2 separate regions of the Homo sapiens genome follow, and region 1 is reported to be linked to region 2. Evidence: microRNA targets listed by miRTarBase, many of them from high-throughput screens and not tested one by one. Region 2 holds a microRNA gene; the other region holds the end of a gene's coding sequence.
Evidence for each region. Region 2 holds the annotated microRNA hsa-miR-6867-5p (UGUGUGUGUAGAGGAAGAAGGGA, at 1,575-1,597, opposite strand). A microRNA usually pairs through its seed, bases 2 to 8, with sites in the 3' UTR of a target mRNA and lowers its output. Matches are read on the target gene's strand: a 7mer-m8 pairs with bases 2 to 8, a 7mer-A1 pairs with bases 2 to 7 and ends in A, and an 8mer does both.

Region 1 (5,364 bases), not on the chromosome of region 2:
AGATTCAAACATACACCAGAAGGATCACAGCCCAAATATCAGGACACTGGGGTGAGAGAGGGCTGCTGGGAGTCATTTTTAGGCCAGGTCTCTCTGAGCAGCTGGCTGCACCACAACAGAAATCAAAACAAGGAACAGCTCCCGAGGGCCTGCCTCTGCTCCAGGGACTGGGGCCTAGAGGTCAAGGGCCCCATGCCTGAATCCCTTTCTTCTGGGTGGATCTGGCAGGGACCCCTATCATCTTCCCAAAGAAGGGGGAGAGGAGAACGCCACAAGATCAAACTCCACCAACCCACCCACCTGTTCCACAGCTAGGATTCCTTCAGCACCCCGCTCCCTGCCTCTTGCTCTCTGAGCGCCACTGGTATTCCCTCCATTGTCCCCAATGAGCCCTGGCATCCATCTTGGTAATATTGCACTTTTCCTGTCTCTCAGATTGTTTCCATTTTTGATTGAGAATGCAAGGTATTTGGAGGGGTAGGGGAAGTGAGTAACCTTAAAGAAATAATATATTAGTTAAATACAATAACAGGAAAAATAGGGGTTATTTTATCTTTTTCCCCTTATTAAAAACAAGAACTACCAAACCAAGGTCTAAACTTAAATAGTCCTACACCTATTCTGCAAACACTAGTAATAGGAAAATAATGCCTGACTGGAATTCCCTTGTCTTTTTTCCTTAGATGATAAAAGTAGTAACATGCCTTGCTGAGGAAAGCAATGGATATAAATGCCTGTAAAATACGCTGCTCTAACATCTGAAAGTGATTAAAATGATTCTATATAATGCCTTCGTCAAGATGGAAAATCAAGGAGGAAGAAAGAGAAACCTTTGGGGCCAGGCTTAGGGTAGACGGGGCTGAGGCCTGGCAAGACAGCCCGTCTACAGTCATTGGACATAGGGGAAACCCACAGGGCATGGGGCACACCTGCTGCTCAGGGTTGCCCCTTTCCAGCTCTCTCTCACTGCCCCCAAAGTCCCATGGCCTGGTGAGAATAGTGAGGAGGAGAGGGGCAACACAGCCAGGTCTGCTGTCACAAAGAGGGATGAGGTGGGGGGAGATGACATTTTTTTCCCCTTGCAATAAAAGAAAAAGGTCTTGAAACGGAAAGGAAAACAAAGCACCAAATGCTGCATCTTCGGGCATTATATGAACCTCAATAATGACCTCAGAAGGGCTCATTATGGTTAAAGTTGCAGTATACAGCAATACAGTGTCGTTTCACATTTTCAGTCGCAACTCATGGGAAACTAGGTTTGGACACTGCGGAGATTTTGTTTTTCTTTTTCCTTTTTTAGTCCGATCTGGTTTTCCTCCAGATGGGTCAGAGCCCTAGGCCCCCTCCCTCCTCTGCCTGCTGCCGGCAGTATCCTTCAGCATCACAAAGCAGCTCAGTAGCTCAAGGGAAAGGCCCTCTCGCCCTGGCTAGGGCTAGGAGGCCAGGCGCACAAGGCCTGGTACCCCCTGGCCATGTCGGAGAAGGACTGGCATGCACCCTTCTTGCTTCAAGTATTAATATTCTCTTTGGGTTTGCAGGGTTTGTGCTGTGAGTTAGGGGGTGAGGGGGCGAGGTGCGAAGACTGGGGCATGGCAATCCCTGTTCACTGCCCAAATCTACATGCTGTCACCAGATGGCAGCATTCCCCACTTTTCCTGGATGCCTGAGCAACTCCCAGCCATCCTTGGGGCTGGATGTCACAATGTAAACATGACCACACAATAAACTATAATGGCAGTGAGGAGGAGCACGGGATTAATGTAGTGGGGAGATCTGTCATTAACTAGCTGTGGGATTTTGGAAAAGTTGTTTCCTGTCCTTGGGCCGCAGTAACAGGAAGGGATGGGATAGAGACCTCTGAGGTCTCTTTCAGTCCTGCATTTTAATGACTCTATTACTTACAGCACTGGGGGTCAAGGAGAGGGGGTCCTTGGGGGGGGCTGGGAGAATGTGGGGGGCAGTGCAGGTGGTGGGGAAGGGCAGGAAAGGCAGGCTCTCGGGAGCACTGTGGTCCAGTCCAACTGAGATGCTCTGTGCTTGGCAGACATGCTCTGCACTCCCTCCTGGCCTGGCTGGCGCACTAGTGACTGAACTGGCTCAGTGCAGACATCTGAGGAGCGAGGCTGCAGGGCCCTCCCCCTGGAAGATAGCTACATTGAAGGTTCTTTACCTGACAGTCACTCTACTTTTAAATTTTATTTTAAATAGTCATAAATTACTTTTTTTCTCTTAATAAATATGTGCTGTTTAAAAATGAGAAAAGTATATACTGCATCTTTAAGTAATGCACTTTGCTCTCTGGGTTTTTTCCATTCTACCTTATTTAAAGTGCATTAATTAAAAAATAATGAACCACTTCTTTATCATTATTGTTCAAATAAGTACAAATAATATTAACATGAAGACACTAAACCACTACCATTAGTACTGCAATCTAGCAGATTAACTCAACATCCTGCTCTATTTAATACTGTCCAGCAGAAGAAAATAACTAATTTCAATTTTAAACAAACTCACAAAACAAAAGGAAACAAAACAATCTCACCACAGGCCTTCGACAAAGAACACGAGCCATTTGCTCTAGCTGCCAGGCATCAGTGTATGGCGAGGGACAGGGGCTTAGGGTTGCCCAGGCAAGGCCTCTGGGATGGGGTGTGGTGGGGTAGGGTAGGGGTGGGGGTGGGTTTTGAAGGCACTGAGACACTGGGTCCCATGCTGCCCTGCCTGGGTGGGGAGCAGGGTGAGGGAGGGCCTTTCCTCCTCTATAGAAAACACCAACCCCCAGTCCAGGGACCCTGGCAGCTGAATCGGTGGCTGTGAGGCCCAATCTGTCCGAAATCAAAGGCACGTGTGGAAATCCACTCCCAGCGAAGGGGGAGTCCTTGGGGGAAGCCGGCTGGGCTTCTGGAGGGTCCCCTCTGAAATGTCAACAATTGAAAAACACAACCCAAAGGTGACAGAGGACCTACAGGGAACTTTATTCTCTCGCTTCTGTCTTCACTGGGGCACTGACCCTCGGGAAGACCAGGTTGGCTCCTGGCACAGGGATCCTCCATCTTCTTGGGCACCTGTGGCATTGCCAGCAGGCCAGAGGGGGTGGCTGGCGGTGTTGGCTCCAGTCTGACCCAAGGGGCCAGCCGGGTCCCCCCTCTGCCCATAGTGGGGACAATGGCTGCTTCTCCATGCTTCATACGTAAGGCTTCCAGCCCTGCCCAGCTGGGGAACACACGCAGAATGGCGGTCACCCAGCAGGCTGGGAGCTGCCTTCTCTCCAAAAGTCTGGCTCCTGAACACCCTCCTCCTTCCTGGGGAGGGTTTTTGCCCCTCTGAGGTTGTGCAGGAACCAGAAGAACAGTTTCTCTGCTTCACCATGTCTGCAACCTGGGGCTTGCCTAGCCCCAAATTTTTCTGGCAGGCGCCAAGCTCCAGCACAGTCCACACAGTGGAAACCAAATGAAACGACTTTGGCTTGTGGAGGGGGAAGAATGTGAAACAAAAACAAAAGCAAAATCACCCGCCCACAAGATACAACAGAAACCCCATCCACTACCCATCCCCTTCCCATGTGAGGCCGACCACCCAGGCCCCCAAACAACCCCTAAAATAAGACGCAAACCAAAGGCCTGACATATAAGCCCCAAATCAACAAACCTCTCCCGAAACATGCAAAGGAACTGCCCGCCCAGAAATACCCAAAATAGTCTGTGCAGATTAGGAAGAGACCGGTGGCTTCGCCCACCCTCTCTGTAAACTCTGGTACTGTGTCCTCCATGGGGTGCCCCACGGAGAGCGGGCTCTCTTCTCAAGGCCAAGACAGTGACAGTTATGAAAGATGGTCTTTGCTGGCACCTGGGAACTGCTTTTTCTTCAACTAACAGTGACAATGGCCTGGCCCAGAAGCAGGCTTGAGCTCAGAAGACACCCCCAAGCCTGAAAGCCAGTGGTGGCTTCTAATGTACCCACCTGTGGTAGGCGTGGCAATGCCCAGGAAACCAGCACAATTCACAAATACAGCTTAGGACAATACCAGGGATACCTGGGGTGGCAAGATGCCAGCAATCAAAACTGGGCCAAGCAGGGGCAGGACACTGGAGGCCCCCATGACCTTGTCTTTTCCAGATCTGTAGCAAAGGCACAACTGGGGTCTCCCACATGGCCTGTCCCAGATGGCATGTAATCCATTGGTGAAGTCCCTATGGTGCACAGGATATCTCAGCTTTCTTGGCTCTGGGTCCCAGGCCTGGGACTCCCTGGTCCATTCCCTTCCTCACTCAGTGTGGGCACCCCCATCCCCTACCTTCCAGCTGTGGGATGGCTTGGACAGGGGGCATCTTTGAGGTCACCCATTCTGCAGTGTTGAATGTTGTCCACCCCCCACCCCCCACCCCCATTTTTTCCTTTCCCTTTTGTTCGTCTCACCGCTCATCCAGTGGGCGGCCAGAGAGGCACACTGAGGCTGGAAGAGCCCAGGCCCTCTGCTAGTTCTTTTTCTCAAGGTAGTTGGAAGGCACCCAGCCTTTGAAGGGCTTCACACCATCCAGGATCTGGCAGTACCACCAGCCATTAGGGTTCCTCTCCAGAACCTCCATGGACACCCCCTCCTGGAAGCCTGCTGTCTCCTCATCCCCCTCGTAGTCTGCGATAGAGACGTACACATCTTTGAGGTTATTGTGGATGAACTGAGACTTCTCGATGGGCTTGGGGCGCACAGGGGACACGGGTATGCTGTTGCGCTGGGCGGGCAGTAGGGGTGAGTCTGAACCCTGGCTGGCAGCCCGTTCGGCCAGGCGGCCCTTGGCCTCGGCGGCAGCGGAGCGAGCAGTGCTAAAGGAGGAGTTCCGTCGGACGCCTCGGAGGCCATCAGTGGCCGTGAGTGACTCATTCCTCCGCAGGGCGCAGGACAGGTTGTTGTCCTTGGGTGGCGGGGACACAAACACCGACTGGGGCCTGACCGCCACCTGCCGCACTCCGTTCCTCATCTTCACCGCTGGAGTGCCTGAGGTCTTGCCGAAGCCCCCGGGAGGTTTGGAGGGGATGGGGGGCGTGGCCTTCTTGCTCTGGTTGACGGTGTTCAGTGCTTGGACGCGCCTCTCGATCTTCTCCAGGCTGTCTGATTTGCCTTCGTTCTGCCTGCCCTTGGCGGGCACTGTGTCCAGCTCTTTGCCAGAGGGGTCAGGTTGCTCGTTCTCATCCAGCACCAAATAGTGGGAAGGGGCCCAGCCCTCCAGCTCCCCAAACCTCACATACCACCACCCGCTCTCCTGCTTCTCCAGCACCTGCACCTCCACGCCCGCGGGGAAGCTGATCTCCGAGTCCTGGACCTTCTGGTAGGCGCTGCATGTCATGTACGAGGTGGCTGGCCCT
Region 2 (5,364 bases):
TCACATATGATACAAGGCTCTTTCCCTCTTTGAGTTTTAAAAAATAAATGTACAATTCCAGAGCTTTGGGTAAAAAATATATACACCCTCATAGCAGGAGCAGCAGCTGCTTTTGCTACGGCTGTTGCTGTCTCTTCAAAAGGGAAAGAGGTGGTGCCAGAAAGAAGGGTGAGTCTGTGCCAGGAAACCTCACCCAGTAGCTGCCAGGAGCCCCTGCACCCCTCAGGCCTTGAGGCTGGTGATGGGAGAGGGAGGGGAGTAAAGGTAATAAAGGCCTTGCCAGAGTCCAGTGGCGCCTTTACAGTCTCTGCCATCCCCCTCCCCCACTTTGGGGCTGCCTGCCCCAGGTATAGGGATCCACCCCACCCCAGCTCTATGGGGAGGACAAAGGGAGAGTCAAAGAGAGAGGGACAGAGACCATGTTGTTGGTGTCAGACACATGAGCCAGAAGGGGGATGTCAACTCCCTCCTTAGCAGTTAGATATCCCAAAAAGCAGGAGTGTGGGCAGCAGACAACCCTAGCTCCTGATACTGCTCTACCCGAGCCCACTGCAAGGCAGGGGGAGGGTCCTCTAGGCAGCTGAGGCCTGTGTTTCCCTGAGCATCTTTTACCCTCTCATCAGAGCCCATCCCTGGACCTTCCAGAGGCCTGAGTGGGGGACTTGCAAGGGCTGATGGGTAACCCCTCCCACCTGCTGCTACTCCCTGCCCCAAAAAGCAGCTTGGCTCACAAGCCTGGGCATGCAGGGCAGCACGAGGAGCTGAGCAGGGAGTGTGGGGGTGGAGAAAGCACCCCGCACCATCCAGGGGCAGAGTAGACAAGGGTAGCACCAAACAGAAGGACCCCTCCCCAGCACACACAACATCCACCCTCAATTACCAGATGCACTCCTGCTCCCTAAAAGAAGACACACACACACACACACACACACACACACACACACACACACACACACACACACACACGGCAACATAATATTCCTGGGGGTCCCAGCCCTGACCAGGAAGAAGCTGGACAGGTGGTGGAGAAGAAGGCTGCCAATCCCTCCCACAATCCCACTCTGCAAGACAGAAGGGTGAGCAGCATTCTTTCCTGCTGCAAGAGGAAGTTGGAAGCTCCATCCCCAGAACAGATCTCGATGGGAGGACATAGAGGAAGGAGCTTTCTATCCCCTTTCTCAGAGGGGACAGGAACCAGCAAAGTGTAGTTTTGGCTTGAAGGAGCAATGGGGAGGGGACTTCAGCAGGATGAACAGACTTATGGGTCCAGGGGTAAATCCATCGACCTCTTTCCCGTGGAGCAGGAAGTTGCTCCACGGGAAAGATGTCAGATGTTGGTTGAGACATCGTGCAAAGTGCTTGAGTGCCAGGTGCCCAAGGATCTGGCGGGTCTGACTGGAGCCTCCACTCTCACTGACTGTTTGCCTCCAGCTTGTAGGAGAGCTCGAAGAGGAGGTTCTGGTTGTCGATGACCTGAAACTGGCGCACATAGGCCTTGGTCTGCAGGTGATTGGGGGATGCCTCCATGTCCAGGCCTAGTGGGTAAAGAGGGAGAGGCAGTCAGGTTCCCAGCTTCCCTTCTTCCTCTACACACACACCGGGCAGAAGATCAGGCTGTGGACTGAGACAGATGTTGGGCAGGAAGGCCTCTGCAGAGGCAAGGAGAGAATGGGGAACCAGCAAGTGTATGGAAATACACATCTGGACAGGGAGTTCTCCCCTGAACCCTCCCGTTCAGTCAAAGCTCTATCTGTACTGCTCTCAGTACCCTGGGTACTCACAAAGGGGCCGGCTCCGGTATTTGCGGATTGTCCTCACTTTTTCGGCCACTGAATGCTGGGAGATGACAAGGAATGAGCCTTGAAAGGGGCACAGAAAGAGGCTCCCCCTCTTATGCTCCCCCTCCGCCATTCTCCCACTCTGCTTTACTCCCTCCAGTCTCCAATTCTGGAGGGTCTCTGAAGGACCAAAGGAGTGGGTGTAACAGAGTGCCATGTGAGGGGGAGGTGAAGTTGCCCCCAAGCTGCCTGTCAGCTCTGCCACCTGTGGGTGGGTTGCCACAGTGATGCCACCAGGGAGACAGTCAAGAGTCTGTTAGGCAAGCTGGGCACTTGGAGGAAGGCTGCTATTTTTGGGAGGTGATGAGAGAGGGAGAGGATGCAAGCCCCCCACTTGTGGGACTAGGGGTTTGCAGTGCCACTCACTCACCAGCTTCTCGATGTTCACCAAACCATCTACAAGGGTCTTACTCCCTTCGTGCAGGAAAGTCAGGTCTAGGGGATGTGGAGAGAATCCAATGTGAGGAAAGGATAAGAGAGGAGTTCGAAAGGGGCCACTGCACCCGAGGACCCCGCTCTTCCCCAGAACCCACTCCGTCTGTGGTGGGGGGCTCCTCTCCAGGTGGGTACTCAGGGCTGAGTCGAGAGGGAGCTGGAAGTCAGAAGCAGGGCATAGGAGAAGGGAAGCATGGGTGGAAGCGGCACAGCTTGGGAGTAACTCTCTCACCTTTGAGGATCAGAGGCACGAAGGGAATCACAGGGGGCTTCATTTTGGAGATCACTTCTCGGTAGCTTTTGTGGTTCCTGCAGGGGTCCTAGTATTCCACAGGAGAGAGATCAAGGGACAGACTGGCCAATGCATCCCAAAGATGTCCTCAGCTTCCTCCCTCACCCCCTGCCTTGTATACATTCCTGATCAGATAGGGGTGCTGGGGGCTTTCTAATGGTGTGGTGGGGAGGGACCTGACTACTCCCCCTTTCCTTCAAGAAAAACAGGGGCGCAATCCTTCCAACCTCACCCTCCAGCATGGTAAGGAGGGTGGGGGGTCCCATACACTAAACACCTTGAAAGGAAAGCTTGAGGAAGGGGGTTTATGGGAACAGAGGGTTTCTGGGCTCTCAGTCCAAGAGCAGAAGAAAGAGCCAAACCCACTCACCGTCAGGTTCTCAAATTTGCGAAACAAGTTCTTGAATTTCCCTGGCAGCTTCTGCAGAGTTTGAAGGAAGGAGAAGGGATATCAGAGTGGAGCTCCTTGGGTTACATGGGAGCCTCGGATTAATTCTCCCTGTTGGAGGGCAAAAGGGCCTGCATGGCTTGTAGGGGGCTGGGAAGCTGGTGGGTGGGGAAATGAAGTCAGGCCTTGGCTAAGTCTAGAGGCTTGAAACAGCCCAGAGGAATTCATTATTCTGGGGAAGGCCAGGTCTGTCTTATGCAGGTGCTTTGTATAAAGATGCCCCCACTGAGTGTGGATGAAAATCAGCCCAACTCCCACAGCCAAGTCTGCGACCTGACCTGGCCAAGGGCTGCCTGCCGTGACTCAGGCGGGATCCGGGCTTTTCACTAATTTGCACAAAGACAGGGTCCATTAGCCAAGCTGTGCGCCCTGGGGTTGCGTATGCCAGAAGAGGGCGCCTCCCTCCAACTGGCGCAAAGACTCCCTCCAGGCCGGCGGCCGTCCCGGGAGGACGCACTTCGGGGAGCCCGGGATGCCCAGATTCCCAGGTAGGAACGGGAGGGGTCTCATCACCTCCCAGGTGAGTCGAAGGCGGCTGACAGCGGCGTTGTCCAGCCCCATGACCACGGCGTAGAAAGACAGCAGGTCCTGGTTCTGCTTGCAGCTGCGGGGGTGGGAGGCGGGGTCAGGGGCGGGCGGCGGCGCGGGCCTCCGGCCTCCGGCCCCCCATCCCGCCGACGGCCGCACTCACAGGGCCGCGATCTTGATGAACTTCTTGAGCAGCTGCGCGCGCTTGCCCGGGGCCTCGCAGAGCAGCACTTCGGTGGCCACCCAGTGCGTGACCTCGCTGCAGCGCTGCAGCAGCAGCTCCAAGTTGGCCGTCTCCCGGCGGCCGCGCTCCCCGTGGAACACGTAGTCCACGAACTCCAGCTGCACCCACGGCAGCGGAGGGGCGGCCAGGGCGCCAGGGGGTGAGGGGAGTGGGTGGGAAGATGGCAGTGCAAGGCGATGAGGAGCGAAAGGCAGGAGGGCGGGGGCGGAAGGGGTGGAAAATAGAAAAATAGAAAGGACAGGAGGCGGCAAAGATGCGGAAAAAGAAAACAACCAGCATTAATAATATTTCACCAGCTACTGAGCACTTACTAGGTGCCAGGCATTCGCTCACGGCTGACATCCTCAAGACAACCATCTGCTAGGCATTATTGTCTCTGCCTTATTTTATTTCTTTAATAGTGAATATTTTAAAAATAGAAATCCTGGGTCAGGTTCTGTGTAAACAGCACTTGGGCCCTGAGCCACTGTGCTCTGGGGTCTCTCTCTTTGCGATTTTTTTCAGATGGGGGAACAAAGGTTACGGCCATGCGTTGCCCAAGGGCTTGCTGCAAGTGAGCCTTGGAACCAGGACGTTGTGCTGCGAACACCGTCTCCCAATGGCACATTTCTCCCTCCAGCCCCCCAGCATAGCACCAGCCTCGGTCCCCACCTCATGCACACATCGGAACAGCTCCCAGTGGAAGGCAGTTAGGTGGTTGGCAACGTCCTCAGGCTCCACTCGGTGGATCTCTGTGTCTCCAGGGGAGACCTGGATCTCCTCGGGGAGGGGCACCTGGTGGCAGGCAGGGGCATAGGGGCTGGGCTCCTGGTGGCAGGGTGAGGGATTGCTCACAGCCCTCCTCAGCCCTCCATTCCAGTCAAGGCCTTGGGAAGTTCTTACCAGAGCCTCATAGCTGTCCCGAGTACAGGCAAACAGGTGGCTGTTGATGCCCAGTGCGGTGAAAACACAGTCCTCAGTGGGCTGGAGAAGGACCTTCTCTGCAGGAGAAAGAGCTGCTCATCCTCGGCCCCTGCCGCCTGCACCCTCACACATCCCACACTGACACTGTCCTATCCAAAAACTCCTCACCCCACACTGACACATTCTAGACTAATGGAACTCATCTTATCACTAGTTTATGCCATATTTATCTGGAATTTGTCAAATGATTATTTCTTTTGCATTTATAACTTTTTTTCTACTCCCTTTCTTTCACAGCTTTTCTCTTACTCTGTTGTCCTTGTGACACTGGGAAGGCTGAAATTTTTTCCTACTGTAGAGGAAAACAAAGCTTCAGTGACATTGCTGGCTTTCTGCCTTCCCACTCATCCTGTGTCTTTAGCCTGTGAAATGTGGCATCCTTACATACACAGGGAGGTTAAAGGATCAGAATACAATCCATAGGTGAGTGAGGGGCAGCACTCAGATCAGAACCTGAGTCCTAGACCAGTGCCTCCCAAACTTTTTTTTTTTTTTTGAGACGGAGTTTCGCTCTTGTTGCCCAGACTGGAGCACAGTGTCTTGATCTCGGCACTGCAACCTCCGCCTCCGCGGTTCAAGTGATTCTCCTGCCTCAGCCTCCCAAGTAGCTGGGATT

Region 1: the mRNA of SH3PXD2A is a reported target of hsa-miR-6867-5p. The part of its 3' UTR that is shown has no 7-base or 8-base seed match.

Annotation. Positions count from the first base shown.
Region 1 is chr10:103,597,338-103,602,701 of GRCh38, forward strand. It overlaps SH3PXD2A (SH3 and PX domains 2A), which reads right to left. Exons shown (of 15, transcript NM_001394015.1): 15 at 1-5,364. The coding sequence ends at 4,479. Among named protein-coding and RNA genes, the nearest start is that of NEURL1-AS1, 83 kb to the left of the region's middle. RefSeq lists an enhancer at 1,515-1,809.
Region 2 is chr17:40,189,835-40,195,198 of GRCh38, reverse strand. It overlaps MIR6867 (microRNA 6867), which reads right to left and starts at 1,602; the gene lies at 1,536-1,602. It overlaps RAPGEFL1 (Rap guanine nucleotide exchange factor like 1), which reads right to left. Exons shown (of 15, transcript NM_016339.6): 7 at 4,668-4,765; 8 at 4,437-4,559; 9 at 3,705-3,883; 10 at 3,527-3,617; 11 at 2,936-2,986; 12 at 2,506-2,593; 13 at 2,209-2,273; 14 at 1,782-1,836; 15 at 1-1,535. The coding sequence ends at 1,411. RefSeq lists enhancers at 582-631, 256-756, 3,458-3,537 and a silencer at 3,658-3,717.